Linked DNA regions of Homo sapiens: region 2 is reported to be linked to region 1. Evidence: microRNA targets listed by miRTarBase, many of them from high-throughput screens and not tested one by one. Region 1 holds a microRNA gene; the other region holds the end of a gene's coding sequence.

Evidence for each region. Region 1 holds the annotated microRNA hsa-miR-6870-3p (GCUCAUCCCCAUCUCCUUUCAG, at 4,695-4,716, shown strand). A microRNA usually pairs through its seed, bases 2 to 8, with sites in the 3' UTR of a target mRNA and lowers its output. Matches are read on the target gene's strand: a 7mer-m8 pairs with bases 2 to 8, a 7mer-A1 pairs with bases 2 to 7 and ends in A, and an 8mer does both.
Region 2: the mRNA of ZNF195 is a reported target of hsa-miR-6870-3p. Seed matches in the 3' UTR shown: 8mer at 1,456-1,463.

What each region holds. Positions count from the first base shown.
Region 1 is chr20:10,646,105-10,654,351 of GRCh38, reverse strand. MIR6870 (microRNA 6870) reads left to right here and starts at 4,657; the gene lies at 4,657-4,716. JAG1 (jagged canonical Notch ligand 1) reads left to right here. Exons shown (of 26, transcript NM_000214.3): 6 at 1,754-1,884; 7 at 2,102-2,221; 8 at 2,658-2,771; 9 at 3,992-4,105; 10 at 4,717-4,830; 11 at 5,245-5,291; 12 at 5,630-5,803; 13 at 6,242-6,392; 14 at 7,249-7,413. RefSeq lists silencers at 2,877-3,171, 6,636-6,685.
Region 2 is chr11:3,352,506-3,360,128 of GRCh38, reverse strand. ZNF195 (zinc finger protein 195) reads left to right here. Exons shown (of 6, transcript NM_001130520.3): 6 at 1-2,202. The coding sequence ends at 1,011. Among named protein-coding and RNA genes, the nearest start is that of ZNF195, 23 kb to the left of the region's middle.

The DNA.
Region 1 (8,247 bases):
TAACTTGGTTGGTGCCTCTTTTAGGGTCAGTATTTTTATTTGTTTTCTTTTGAAGTCATCCATGGCCTCTTGTGGTTGCTTTTTTATGCTTGGGGATTGAGGTCTCTTTAATTAGGTGAGGTTGGGTCCTCAGCTGCCTCTCCTTGCCTTTATGAGGCAACTTGAAGAGGGCTAGTGATCCTGAATTTGGAAGAGAATAAGGGAAGACGGTGAGAATATTGCCATTTCGTAATCAGTTCCCTCTTACTATCTTTCAGGCTAAGAATATCAGCCTTGACAGAATGGCTACACCCTTACCTCCCACTAACGTGGGTGTCCGCTTTTGAGAAATTATTTAGATTGTAATTTTGTTCTTATCTTACTCCTTTAGTCACTTGTCACGTTGACATTCCATTTTACATAAACCAGAATCCAGTGTCTAACTTTAAACCACACATTCTAGTGATTTCTTTGCATGTGGGTGTGCATAGCTTGGTTTCAGAAGTTAGGAAGTGGTTAGTCAGTATTCTCAGGGGTTAAGTTGACTCTCAGCCGTGGGTGATTAGCTATTAGCTAGATCCCTATAATTTTCCCATGACAAGGATTTGCTAGCCTGCCTCCCGCTCTTGGGAAACCGAAAGCCTTTCCTTCTGGGGAGCTAGAGGGGGCGGGGGTTGTTTTCCAGAGTTACAGCTGAGCAGCTTAGGGGGTTGGCGCTGATCGTGGCTTTTCCCAGGTCCCGTTCTGGAAACATGTTGCCCATCCCACCCGCACCCCACCCTCCACCCTCCACCCTCCACGCTCCACCGGGAGGCTAGTTGATGTTTCTCCCTGCCTTCCCCCACCCTTGTTAAAGCTTGGCTCTTGAGAAGGCAATTAAAGTTTCAGAGGGCTTGAAAATTCAAGGGAGAGTGGTTTGAGACGCTGCCCCCTCTCCCACCCCAGATGAAAGTTGTTGTATTTGTTTTTGTTTTTGCTTGGGGATCAGAGGCACTATTTGGCCCCAAAAGAGTATGATTAATCAAGGTGCTTATATAAAAGAACCTCAACTCCGCCAATACTAGATAAATTAAGCAGACTGCTTTCTTTTTTTTTTCTTTTCTTGGCAAAGCAAGAAATCACTATAAATTAGCACACAGTAATGGGACACAAATTATGGAGTTGGTTCCAAGTGTTGTCATTTCCTTCTCCTTCCCTATAGAAGTGGGTTTAGAGAGCCTACTCTGGCTTTGGCCAAGGGAGGGTGCCCCTTTCTCTCCTTGTTTTTTTAAATAAAGCGTCATCGTGAGGCAGTTTCCTGCTGCACTTGGTGGCTTGTTGCATTTCTGTGCACTGGGGTCATGACTTTCTGTGCAGACAAAGAGCAGAGTGGCAAGTGCAGCGTCTGCAGAGACTTTGGCATAGCTCTCTTGTCACCGAGAGAGTCCTTTCCTCTATAGTCTGTCGCAACTAGGTGCACGGGTTGATTTATTCCATGCCTTCACCTTTGGCTCACTCGTGTGAGCCTGAGAAGAGAGTGGCTTTGTGAAGGGCATCCCCATGCTGGCCTCTTCCCAAACAGCCCTCCTTTTGTCAGGAGTCGGCTGGGAGGGGACCTCAGCTCAACTGTGAAAATGTTTGTTTATACGGAGCCCCTGATGAGCCTTGGGAGTCTACCTTCCTGTCCCCAGAAACAAAACAGAAAAAGCCTGGACTTTGCAGTCTTCCATTTGAATTGTACAGGTGTCTCTTAACGTTCAAAAGGCTAACCTGGAGGTGTGCTGTGTGTCTCCAGGTGCCAGTACGGCTGGCAAGGCCTGTACTGTGATAAGTGCATCCCACACCCGGGATGCGTCCACGGCATCTGTAATGAGCCCTGGCAGTGCCTCTGTGAGACCAACTGGGGCGGCCAGCTCTGTGACAAAGGTATGGCCCTTAGGGATGAGACCCAGGGTGGGATCTGGGGGTGGGATGGCACTAATTTGGTTTCTAATTTTATTGGCAGGGGCTTTTATTCTGAATTCTCCTTGAATGCTGTGTGGGTTTTCTGGTTTTTCTTTTTAAAAGACGACTGGGGCTAGAAACATGGTGGGTTCGCCATCTTCACAGGCGTCTCTTAGTGACTCCAGGATCTTTTTGGCAGATCTCAATTACTGTGGGACTCATCAGCCGTGTCTCAACGGGGGAACTTGTAGCAACACAGGCCCTGACAAATATCAGTGTTCCTGCCCTGAGGGGTATTCAGGACCCAACTGTGAAATTGGTAAGTGGTCCAAGATGAATGAGAGCCCTTTGTCTAATTTTTCTGTACTCAGCTTTTAAAAAATATACTTAAGGACTTGTTTAAGGAAAAAAAAGTGAAAATAGCTTCCAAAGATAGGCCTTATCCCAACCATTCTATAAGCCTTTGTAACTTTCAAGTCTCTAAAGTTTTTTGGGTGATGCTGATTCGTATAGGAGGCAGCGGGAGATGAAATGACCCCAGCTCTGAGATGTCTTGGAATGTGGTTAGAGACAGCTCAGCGAGAAAGATGACTTCCTTTCTTTCCTAGACACAGCAGGGTTCTATCACACGCTTGCTTTTGGTTTTTGAAATATGCTTGCACTAGTGGCTGTGGTGTGGGATTCGGTTGGAGGGGGGTGTGGGGAGGTAACGGTGTGCAGGCATCCCTCTCTGACTGCCATCCTGGTTTTTGCAGCTGAGCACGCCTGCCTCTCTGATCCCTGTCACAACAGAGGCAGCTGTAAGGAGACCTCCCTGGGCTTTGAGTGTGAGTGTTCCCCAGGCTGGACCGGCCCCACATGCTCTACAAGTAAGTCCAATTTTCAGCCTGTGTCCATTCTAAGGATCCTTGTGCCAAGATACCACGCTGGGGAGAGGTACCTAGGCTTGTCCAGTGTGAATGTCTCGGTGAGAGAGGGGCGGGTGCAGGCCTAAGTCTGGTAAGCAGTCTGGTGGCTTGTGTGTTTGGAAGTCTCCCAGCACCCCCATCCTGTCCCACTAAGGTAGCGCATGTATCTGTTCTTGGAAGGAACGTCCTCGTGGAATCGCTTGTTCCTTTGCATCTGCTTCCTGGAGCTGGCCACCTTCCAATTGTGGTTATTCTTCTTGCAGCCATGGAGAGGCTGCCTTCAGGGGAGGTTGTCACTTACTACTGGATTCTGTCATAGGGCCAGGGGGCCCCAGAGAAGAACCTGGCCTGCAGAGTTCCTTTGGCTGTGAGACAGGGCTGTATATCAGAATCACCTGGGCTGCTTTACAGTGTAAATCTCTGGGTCCCCCAGATTCCCTCCAGAATCGGGGAGTCCATGGTCTTTGATAAACTTCTGGAATTCTGCAGTGCAGCCAGGTCTGAGAACCGCTGTCATCAGCACCCCAGGTGTGGTTATGGATGTGGATTTCTGGGGTCAGATTGCCTGTGCTGGTCCTAGGCCCCCACCTGTCACTTGCGGAACTCCAGCAGGCCACAGAAGCTCCCCGGGCCCTCTTTAAATGGCACAGTAGCAATTCCCATCTCCGAGGTTGTCATAAAGACACAAAAGTGAATACTTCATAAATTGTTAGGAGTTGTCTCTGGTCAGAGCAGAAGTGGAGAATGCAGCCTCTAGGTGTGCTATTTTGGGCAAACTCTGTAAGCAAATGAGAGGAATAAGGTTTTCCACCTGTAAAGAACTATTTTTCCTGACTTCTTAGCTACTTCTGAGCCATGATGAAACTTTTCTTTAAAAATAAAGATTAGGCAGATAGAGATGTCCTGTGTTCCTCCTGGGCGGATGCTCCGTCAGTATCCAGCTGTCTTTCTCCCCCACTGCTTAGGTTGGGGATTACATGAACTGGGGCAGTGGGGGATTTAAAGCTAAAATCAAGGCTTCGGCCTTATCGTCACCGTCCCACTTGTCCTGCTGTAGCTTTCCTTGTAGCAGGTGTCTGGCTCTTCAATGACAGCCCCTCATGTAAGAGGTGATGTTAAAGGATCTAATTGTCAGATGGATTGAATTAAATTGTCAACCCCCTCCTTTTCTTGTTGACCAGACATTGATGACTGTTCTCCTAATAACTGTTCCCACGGGGGCACCTGCCAGGACCTGGTTAACGGATTTAAGTGTGTGTGCCCCCCACAGTGGACTGGGAAAACGTGCCAGTTAGGTAAGAACATCCCTGTGACTGTAATTTTTATACCAAGGTTGGCTTTGATTGTCAAAGCCATTACAGAAGACGAGCGTGTGGCCGGCAGTGTGAGTTCACACTCCATCATGCTAAGAAGTAATTTATTATCAAGAGTCTAGCAGGCCTGGGAGAAATAACTTGAATGCAAATGGACTAGCTCTTTTAGGCCCTGTGGGAAAGTCGTGGGATTCCTTGAACCATGTCAATCGTCTGTCCGAGGAGTGTTCAGCTGGGTTCCAAAAGGGGATGATCTCATGAGGAATGAGCTGTCTGCATTCTTTTTGCCACATTTAAATCCCAGCAACTAGGCTGCCTGGGTTTTGCACAGAAATGCCTGGTGGCTTTCTGCTGTTTTGTTGGGGGCTGGTTAACTAGCAGCTGGAAAGTTATCAATTAGGGTTCTTATTGGATAATAGCTAGGGAGAGGGATCAGATGCTTAAAATAGAGGGAACCTCTAGTATCTTTTATTTAGCTAGCTTATTAAAATGTCTCATGTCTCAGACAAACTCTGGCCTGTTCTTTTTTTTTCCAAGGTGGGGGAGATGGGGGTTGAACTTCATTTCTCATGCTCATCCCCATCTCCTTTCAGATGCAAATGAATGTGAGGCCAAACCTTGTGTAAACGCCAAATCCTGTAAGAATCTCATTGCCAGCTACTACTGCGACTGTCTTCCCGGCTGGATGGGTCAGAATTGTGACATAAGTGAGTGACTTTGTTTCCATTTTGATTTTCATGAAACTTGGGTAGCCGACTTGCTGGTCCGTACTGGGGCTCCAGTCCTAGGACTTGAGCAGTAGAAGGAAAACCTTAGAGTGGGAATGGTTTTTTGAGAGGGAGTGGTCAGGGCAGCAGTGAAAACATACACTTTATCAGGCTCATTAGCTGCGAAAACCAGCCATATTCTGATAATGTGGCTGAAACAATGATGTGAAGTTTCACTCCCTCATTCTGGAAGAATTAGGGAGGGTCCCCACCCAGCGTAATAACCTTATCTCACGGAAAGCACACAGGAAATCTGATTTGAAACTTATCTATCCTGAGCTGAGAAGGCTTTTCAATTAAGCCCAATTTCACTGTAAATTACCTCTTTAAAATGATGACTTATTTATTTTTTAGATATTAATGACTGCCTTGGCCAGTGTCAGAATGACGCCTCCTGTCGGGTATGTAAATCTTTGCTTAAATCAAAACTTTGACAATTGACAACAAATCTTTAGATTTGTGCGACACTAGGAGAGCTCTGTCCCTGTGAGATTTAAAAATTTGGGTGAAAAAAGAGTCTCTTGGAAGTTTCGCTAGGGCTTATGTTACCCCAGCCTCGTGGGAGTCATTTTGAAGGCATGCACATAGAAATTCCTCTAACCACTTTCAGAGGTTTAGCATTTGGCTATTTCAGTGAACCAGCTAAACCGCAACAGTCATGCTAAACCGCTGAAGCCCTGTGTTTGTGGAATACATAGAAAAAAAGCATGTGTCTCTCTCTCCCCTTCTCCTCTTCTAGGATTTGGTTAATGGTTATCGCTGTATCTGTCCACCTGGCTATGCAGGCGATCACTGTGAGAGAGACATCGATGAATGTGCCAGCAACCCCTGTTTGAATGGGGGTCACTGTCAGAATGAAATCAACAGATTCCAGTGTCTGTGTCCCACTGGTTTCTCTGGAAACCTCTGTCAGGTGAGTGGTGGCAAAACCTCAGATGGCCAAGTTTTTAGAGCAGAGCCGCTGCCTCCTCCGCTTCCCTTTACTTTTCCCTCAGCTCTTGTGTCTGGAATTTCCTAACATCTATTAACATCCTATTGATGAGAGAGTCTCTGCTAGACAAATGCTGGTGGAAGGAGATACTGACGAATTATTTTCTTCTTAGTGTCTTCGTCTTTGTGTTCTTTTTGGTTCCCTCCACCCCCTCTTGTGCTCCCTCTCCCACTCTGCCCCGTTGTTTCAAATACTGGACATTGGCAGTCCCTACAGCATAGAGATGTATCTTACAGGGTGTCTCCTAATAGAAACCGAAGGAACTGTCAGATTCCAGTGCCTGCTGCCCCAGAGAAGTTATCGTGACACCTTTGTTTTACTCTGATCCCTCCCCCTTTTCGCTGTTCCTGATATTTGCAGCTGGACATCGATTATTGTGAGCCTAATCCCTGCCAGAACGGTGCCCAGTGCTACAACCGTGCCAGTGACTATTTCTGCAAGTGCCCCGAGGACTATGAGGGCAAGAACTGCTCACACCTGAAAGACCACTGCCGCACGACCCCCTGTGAAGGTACCTCCCTTCTCCCGGGACCTGGCTGTCTCCAGACTTGCTCCTTTTGTCCCCACTTACTACCACTGCCCCTTGTTACACTTGAGAAGTAATGTATTGGTGAGGAGGACCTCTATAGTGAAATGATCCTGCCTGTGTAGCGGGCCGCAACACGTGGAAACAATCTATTCCGGCCTGCCAGTGGGAGAGCCGTGTCTACAAGTAGCCCAGGGGAGAGAATGTGAAATCCATTTAGCATTCCTGTTCTGGGGTGGGCTGATGTGCAACGCTGAGGCAAATGCCTGAGAACAACACTGTCAACAGAACTTCCTGCAACGGCAGACAGAGGGGGATGTTCTGTATCTGCACGGTCAGGTATGGGAGCCCCAGGCCATGTGGACTGTGACTAGTGTAACTAGAAACTGATTTTATTTCATTTTAGTTCATTTAAATGTAAATAGCCACATGTGGCCGGTGGCTGCTGTATTAGGCAGCACAACATTTAAAGCTTCTATAAGATTGTCCTTGAGCCTTGCTTAAGATCAAAAAGGAAGTAAATAAAGCAGGTCCTTTTGCCTTAGCAAGTGTTTACCAAATTGGGTAGATGTCAAAGGTAGGATGAAGGGGATCCACAAGCATGTGGGTTTTCCTGGTTGTGTGGAGGGAGAAAATGCTTTAAAACTCTTTGCCTGGAGTCTCAACTTTGCCTGTCATAATGTGATGTGGCACGTTGCCAGTATCTTGGCTTCCCTGGGGTGTGTCTCATTAGCCAGAGGGTCCCTGTCTCCAGGAAAGTGGGCTTGGCCCAGGCCCTTGGCTTAGGAATGCCGCATCTGTGGGTGCATGGCTGTGATCTGATCCCAAGCCTATCTTCTAGTGATTGACAGCTGCACAGTGGCCATGGCTTCCAACGACACACCTGAAGGGGTGCGGTATATTTCCTCCAACGTCTGTGGTCCTCACGGGAAGTGCAAGAGTCAGTCGGGAGGCAAATTCACCTGTGACTGTAACAAAGGCTTCACGGGAACATACTGCCATGAAAGTAAGACTCCCTCATCCGGGAATGGACCAGTGCTCCCCAGCCTGCCCCTGCCCCTGCCTCTGCCCCTGGCCCACCCTGGGATCATTGGTGTTGAAAGTTTTTTTTTTTTTTTTGAGACCGAATTTCGCTGTTGTTGCCCAGGCTAGAGTGCAGTGGCACGATCTCGGCTCACCACAACCTCGGCCTCCCAGGTTCAAGCGATTCTCCTGCCTGCCTCAGCCTTCCTGAGTAGCTGGGATTACAGGCATGCGCACCACGCCCACCACGCCCAGCTAATTTTGTATTTTTAGTAGAGATGGGGTTTCCCCATGTTGGTCAGGCTGGTCTCGAACTCCCAGCCTCAGATGATCCACCCCCCGACCCCCAACTTGGCCTCCCAAAGTGCTGGGATTACAGGTGTGAGCCACCATGCCCAGCAGTGTTGAAATTGTTTTAATCAGAAACAGTAAGGCTGGGGAGACTGGTTGAGACTTATCCTTACATCTGGGATCTAAGACTGAGGTCGTGTTCAATTTACCAGATCACTCTGCCTCGGAGCCTCCATATCTATGTTGGAACATTCTGGAATGTTGCTAGGTTGGGTGATTCCTCTTTTCTGTAGGAGTTTCTTCCCCACTTTCACCTAGTACCGGTGACTAAATGCCCATGTGAGGGCATTAAGTGGGTAAGGCACTCTCTGGAAGCTTCTGCTTGATAAGCCGCCTGTCTAATTTGAGAAACAGCCCTGATGGAGGGTAGCAGGTGGAGGTGCCAGGTGCATTGTGTCAGGAGGGAGCCATGAAAACTGCTGAACAGTGCTTGTCTATGGCTTCACAAGTCCTTCAGTTCTTTTTT
Region 2 (7,623 bases), not on the chromosome of region 1:
GACACTGGAGAGAAACCTTACAAGTGTCAAGAATGTAACAACGTCATTAAAACTTGCTCAGTCCTTACTAAAAATAGAATTTATGCCGGAGGGGAACATTACAGATGTGAAGAATTTGGCAAAGTATTTAACCAGTGCTCCCACCTTACTGAACATGAGCATGGTACTGAGGAAAAACCCTGCAAATATGAAGAGTGCAGCAGTGTCTTTATCTCTTGCTCAAGCCTTTCTAATCAACAGATGATTCTTGCTGGAGAGAAGCTCTCCAAATGTGAAACATGGTACAAAGGTTTTAACCACAGCCCAAATCCTTCCAAACACCAGAGAAATGAGATTGGAGGGAAACCTTTCAAATGTGAGGAATGTGACAGCATCTTCAAGTGGTTCTCAGACCTTACTAAACATAAGAGAATTCACACTGGTGAGAAACCATACAAATGTGACGAATGTGGGAAAGCCTATACACAGTCCTCACACCTCAGTGAACACAGGAGGATTCACACCGGAGAGAAACCCTACCAATGTGAAGAATGTGGGAAGGTCTTCAGAACTTGCTCAAGCCTTTCTAACCATAAGAGAACTCATTCTGAAGAAAAACCCTACACGTGTGAAGAATGTGGCAACATCTTTAAGCAGTTATCAGACCTCACTAAGCATAAGAAAACCCATACTGGAGAGAAGCCCTACAAATGTGACGAATGTGGAAAAAACTTTACCCAGTCCTCCAACCTTATTGTACATAAGAGAATTCATACTGGAGAGAAACCCTACAAGTGTGAAGAATGTGGCAGAGTCTTCATGTGGTTCTCAGACATTACCAAACATAAGAAAACCCATACTGGAGAGAAACCCTACAAATGTGACGAATGTGGAAAAAACTTTACCCAGTCCTCAAACCTTATTGTACATAAGAGAATTCATACTGGAGAGAAACCCTACAAGTGTGAAAAGTGTGGCAAAGCCTTCACCCAGTTCTCACACCTGACTGTACATGAAAGCATTCATACTTGAGAAAAAAATAAACAAATATAAAAATAGGCAAAGCCGTTAGTATCTGCTCGCATCCCACTTTACATCAGAGTTCAGACTTAATAAAGTTATCATAAATGTAATTACTATTGAAAGACCTTTCATGAAATATAAGTCTCCAGAGCACACAAGAGTATTTCTTCTGAAAAAAATGTTACAATTATACTAGATGGAAGACTTGCATCAGTTGCTTAAACTTTCAGAAAATTTGTAGAGAAACCCAACAAATCTCATAAATGTGGAATAACATTTGTTCAAAAATGATAGCTTAGAAAACACTAGAGTTCATACTAAAAGATATTTTGCAAATACACTAAATGGGAAAAATAAGCAAGGACACGTTCAGAAATGACACTGAATCCCTGTGTTGAGTCTACAGAGACATCTAGACTTAAAATAGATCATTTATATTTAAGTTTAAAAGGAGGATGAGACTGAGTTTTTGTAGAGTTATAATTACATTCAAAATATACTTTTTTGCATTGAAAAAATGTTAAATTTTTGAAAAGCGAATATTGATGTCATTCTATTCTCAAATCAGTAGATGCTGTGTCTTCATTTCTAGTGCTGATGTGAAAACACATGGTCAGTTGTTGCTGCGTCAGAGATATGAGAAATTCTTTTCTCTTAGGTGTGCATCACTGATATACTTGTCCGTGAAAGGTGAAAGACACTGAAATGTAAGATGCGTGAGTAAAATCTTGGTAGAGAGGCTCTTTGTGGTTGTTTTATATACTTGTAAGTGATTTATGAGATAGGTGTTTAGAATAATACTCTTCTGTTAGGGTCACCCTGATCAGACCGTTCCCTTCCCCTCCCACAGGACTTACAATACGGTCCCTTGTGCTCTCTGCACAGCTACCCCAGGGCAAAAAACAAACCCCCCTTCACTGATCCCTCCAGTAACTGTGCAGACAGTTACAGGATGCGGTTAACATGTCTGTTCACCTCGCATAACAAAGCTGGCAAAAAACATCTCCAGGATGCAGACAAGACACCTGCACCCTCGACTAAGCTCCCCCACCCCAACCCAGTTCTCCTGCACCCCCAACTCAGCTCCCGCACCCCGACCTAGTTCTGGCCCTATAAAAACCTGCTATAGTCTGTAAGCAGGGCTGCCTCCTCTAACTGTGGTGGAGCAGCCAAGCAGCTCAATAAAGCTTGCTTGCCTGACTTTGGGTCTCTTCATCCTTTCTCTTGGCTGACCTTACATTTCTGGTGCCGAAACCCGGAAAGGTGATAGAGTTCGGCCTCCCTTTCTCCCTTTCTCTTTCTCTCCCTCCTTCCCCTGGCTGAACTCCCCCTTCCAGAACCTGCTAGAGACCCAAGGATCTCATACATACTTTCCATTGCTGGCGAACACATCCAACACCAGGGCCTCCTCAGGGTTGAGTAAAGGAGACTTTCGCCTTGTGTCTGGAACCCTTGTCTGCTCTTTCCTTCCTAAAAGACCCAGCACTGGGCCAAGGGTTTCCTCCTCCTGGCCTCCAGGAGGCCCTCGATATCTCCTATCAAGGATGCCTGAACTGGGGATTATCGCACTTCTCCGACTTGAACTGTGGGACAAGGGACGCGTTCTCCCACCATTCTAGTCTCCGGCCAAGTCTCCCATCTCTACCCCTCCCTTTCTCATTCCACTATGGGAGCCTTCCAATCCCCTCCCTCAAAGACATCCCCGCTTCGGGTGCCTCCTCCATCATAACCTTAATGCCCTTAGCCTCCATTCCGAAATTCAGCCAAAAAAAAACCTCATCTTTTATTGTAACACCGCCTGGCCACAATATAAACTAAACAATGGCTCCCAATGGCCTGAAAACGGCACTTTAAATTTCAACATTCTCAGGTACCTAGACAACTTCTGCCATCGCAATGGAAAGTGGTCAGAGATTCCTTATGTTCAGGCTTTCGTTTGCCCTCCATAGCCATCCCTCCCTCTGTCAGTCCTGCTCTACTTTCCAAATCCTCGCCTGCTCCAAACCTGACCCATCCTCAGACCCCCACCCCCGTCACCGCTCCTCCCAATGATTCTTCCTTCTTTGATCCTGCCAACTTTTCCCCAACAGCACCGTAATCCTCCCCCAAATCATCACAATCCTCCACCATACAATCCCGCTCCTGCCTTCGTTCTCTTCCTCTCTCCAACCACCCAGCTTCTGATTCTGATTCTTCCCCATCTCCACCTCATACCCGCTCTCAGACTCAGCATGCCCAACACTCGGCCCCCTTACTTCCCCTCTGAGAGGTGGCTGGGGCTAAAGGAGTCGTTCGCGTCCACATTCCCTTCTCCCTCTCTTAACCTTTCGCAAATTAAGAAACATCTCAGGTCCTTTTCCTCCAATCCTGACACTTATATCAAAAAGCTCAAATACCTCACCCAATCTTACAGACTCACTTGGCATGATCTCTATATTATCCTCTCTTATACTCTCCTCCCAGAAAAAAAAAAAAAGAAAAGAAAAGAGTGGCTTGCAGCTCAGGCATGCCAATGATCTTCATCCACAAGACCGTACTAAGCCCATAGGGGCTGCTGCAGTTTCCTGGGAAAAACCCTCCCGGGAGTACCAACCCACAGACCCCAGCCGGGCATCTCATAACCACATGATCACTTGCCTTATCTCAGGTCTTAATAAAGCTGCCCATAAGGCTGTAACTTTGAAAAGCTCAAAAAAGTCTCCCAAAGGGCCGACAAAAATCCCACCAAATTTCTTTCCCACCTTACAGAGGCCCTCCAAAAATACACCCATGTTAACCCCACCTCCCAGGAAGGTCTGCTTCTGACTTATGGCGCAAGCTCAAAAAGGTAGAAGACAGCCCTCAAACCCCTCAACGAGACCTCCTTAACCTGGCCTTTAAGGTCTTCAGCAACAGAGATGAGCAAAATAAATTAGATAAAGCCCAAGGAGATTGTGCCAAGTACCAGCTCCTAGCAGCAGCTATTTGTCAGCCTACTCGGGCTGCCCAGGGGCACAATAGACCCCATAGCAGTGACCCTCCTGGGCCCTGTTTTAAGTGCTGCAAAGAAGGTCACTGGGCCCGAGCATGCCCTAACCCATGATTGCCAAAAACTCCTTGCCCAGCCTGCCAACAAACTGGTCACTGGAAGTCTGATTGTCCTCTTAACAAGCAGACTAACAGGCCGGTTCCTCAAGGCCCTGGCAAAACGAAGAGTGAAGAGTCACTCCCACTCCCACAGCTCCTTGTCCTGGCCACTGAAGATTGACAGAGCCCAGGGCCCCCGGCCCCATCTGCCGTCACTGCATCGGAACCCAGGGTAACTCTGCTAATGGCAGGTAAGCCAGTCTCTTTCTTAATTGATAGTGGGGCCACCTACTTGGTTTTACCTGAATCTTTAGGACCCACTTGCCCTTCCCAGGTCTCTGTTGTAGGGGTTGATGGACTGGTCTGGTGTCCACGTGCTACTGAATTATTTATTTGTTCCCTGTTTAATACTGCTTTTTCACACTCCTTCCTTATCATGCCTCATTGCCCCACCCCAATGCTAGGCCAAGACATTTTAACCAAATTCAAAGCTTCTATCATGTTTTCCTGTCCCCCTCAACCAGAGTCCCTCCTGCTCCTCTCTGCTAGTCTGGCCCCTGAACCCCACTCCCCAGCACCCGCTACCCGCCTCCCTCATTAACCCAGTAGTGTGGGACACCATCACCCCTTCCATAGCTGCTCACCAGGACCTCATCAAAATCCAGTTAAAAGACCCCTCTAAATTTCCCAACATTCCCCAATACCCCACTTCCCTAACACACCAAAGGACTTACAACCCATCATAAGCTCTGCTCACACAGTCGTCTTAGACCAACACTCCATATAACAACCCCATCCTCCCTATTAAAAAATCTGACAGCTCATACCAACTCGTTCAGGACCTCCGAGTTATCAATCAGGCTGTCCTCCCTATTCATCCTGTAGTCCCTAACCCCTATACACTTCTCCCTCTCATCCCCTCCAGCACCACCCACTACACCACAATTGACCTGAAAGATGCCTTCTTCACCATTCCCCTACACCCCGATTCCCAAAACCTCTTTGCTTTCACCCAGACTGACCCCAACACCCTCCAGTCACAACAACTCACGTGGACTGTCCTCCCTCAGGGCTTCCAGGATAGCCTTCTTTTCTTCGGGCAAGCCCTAGCCCAAGACCTTGCCTCCTTGGATCTTTCCCCCAGCCGCCTTCTTCAATATCTAGATGACCTCCTTCTCTGTAGCCCCTCCCTAAAAAACTCCCAAACTCACACTGCCACCCTTCTGAATTTCCTTACTAATAAAGGCTATAGGGTCTCCCCTCTAAAGAACAGCTTTCCACCCCTACCGGGACCTACTTAGGAGTTCAACCTTCCCCCAGGTCTCGAGCCATGACCCCGGCATGGGCAGCCTTAATAGACAGTCTATCTCCACCTTCTTCAAAAAACTAAATCCTTTCCTTCCTAGGGCTAACAGGCTTTTTAAAAATATGGATTCCCAACTTTGCCCCCCTAGCTCACCCCCTTTATAAAGCAGCCAAAGGCCCCCTCAATAAACTCCTAAACTCCTCACATAACATACTCCCCAACTTCCGCAAACTCCAAACCACTCTTATCACTGCACCGGCTCTGTCCTTACCTAATATCTCCCAACCTTTCACTCTCTATACTGCCAAAAAACCAAAGAATAGCCCTTGGTGTCTTAAGACAACAAAAATAAAATCCTCCTTCCTTTTCTCCTGTAGCCTGCCTCTCTGAACAACTCAACAACACAGTCAAAGGGTGGCCAACCTGTCTTACAGTACAGCAGCAGCAGCAGTTTTAGCTCTAGAAAGCAAGATGCTAACATTCAGCCCAAATACCACCATCTACAGTCCTCATAATCTACATCTCCTCTCCTCCCAAGCATTAAGTTCTCCTCCTCCTTCCCAGATTCAATTACTCCATGCCCTCTTTATCAAAAATCCCAAATTCTGCCTTGCCAAAAGTGCTCCCCTCAACCCAGCATCCTTACTCCCCATATCCTCTTCCCTTCCTACTCATTCTTGCACTGACATCCTAGACCACCAGCAGCCACACTTCCCAAACATTTCCTCCAAGCGTCTCGCCAACCCCAATGACCAGCTATTCATAGATGGCTCCTCTTCCAGGCCCGCTGGCTCCTCCAGAATTGCTGGATATGCAGTTGTTTCTCTTGACCAAGTAATTAAAGCCAGGCCCCTACCTTCAGGAACCTCCCCCAAAAAAGCAGAACTTACAGCTCTCACCAGAGCCCTAACCCTTTCCAAAGGCAAACAAGTCAACATTTATACAAACTCCAAAGATGCCTATCACATCCTTCATTCCCACGCTGCCATCTGGCAAAAGAGGATTCCTTACTGCCAAAGGAACCCTCATCACTAACAGCTCCCCTTATTTACCAGCTACTTCAGGCTGCACACCTTCCAACCAAAGCAGGACATCAAACAGGTTCAAATAAAATCTCAAAAAGAAGCACGAAAGCTGATAAGGCAGCAAAGAAGCTCTCCCTTTCTTCTCCCCCTGGCTCTCTCCTCCTCATTACCCCTACAATCCAACCCCAGAATTCCCCACTAAAAAAAGGGCTCACTACTACAACAAGGAACCTCCTTCGAAAGCAACTAGATAATCAAAAACTCATCCTCCACCAAAAACAAACCAAAAAAAAAAAAAAAATTCTAACATCCCTTCACCAATCTTTCCACGTTGGTGTGCACCCCCCGTACCTTCTCCTTTGCCTATATTTCTCTTCCCCCGACCTATTTACCTTATTAAAAAACATAACCTCAAACTGTCATATATGCTCTGTCACTTCCTCCCAAGGGACCCTCCGCTCTCCATCTATTCCTACACACCAGTTAAGAGGATCCTCATTATCATATTTCCAGGCACTCTCTACAGACTTACAGGCTTTCCTGAAAAAAAAAAAATTGTAGACTATTACCCACCTCCAAAACCAACTAGACTCCCTAGCAGCAGTTACCCTACAAAACCGCAAAGGCCTTGATTTGCTTACTGCAGAAAAAGGAAGTCTCTGGATCTTCCTAGATGAGGAATGCTGCTTCTATTTCAATCAGTCAGGCCTGGTTCAGGGTGCAGTCAAACAACTAAAAGACCAAGCCCTCCCCCGCACTCACAGAAAAAAGAAAAATCACCTCCTCTGCCTGGCCCTCTTGGCCCCCTTGGTCTCTCAGCTCTTAGGCCTCCTGGTTACTCCCACTCCTAGGACCCGTCCTAACCATTCTCCTTCCAGTCTTTGGGCCCTGCCTCTTACGTCTCTGTACCCAGTTTTTACGGAACCGCGTCCGAGCTTTCACCCACGGAACCATGAAAGACATGACGCTACTGCAAGAATACCGGCAATTTCAAAACCAGTACCAGGACCAACCCCTACCTTCCAGCCTTCCCCCTAAACACTGCCCCCTCTCAGCTTGAAGTAGCCAGGCGAAAAATGGCGTCCCCTTTCCTATCATCGATTAAAAGGCTAAAATGTTAGGGTCGCCCCGACCAGACCACTCCCTTCCCCTCCCACAGGCCTTACAATACAGTCCTTTGCGCTCTCCGCACAGCTACCCCAGGGCAAAAGACAAATCCCCCTT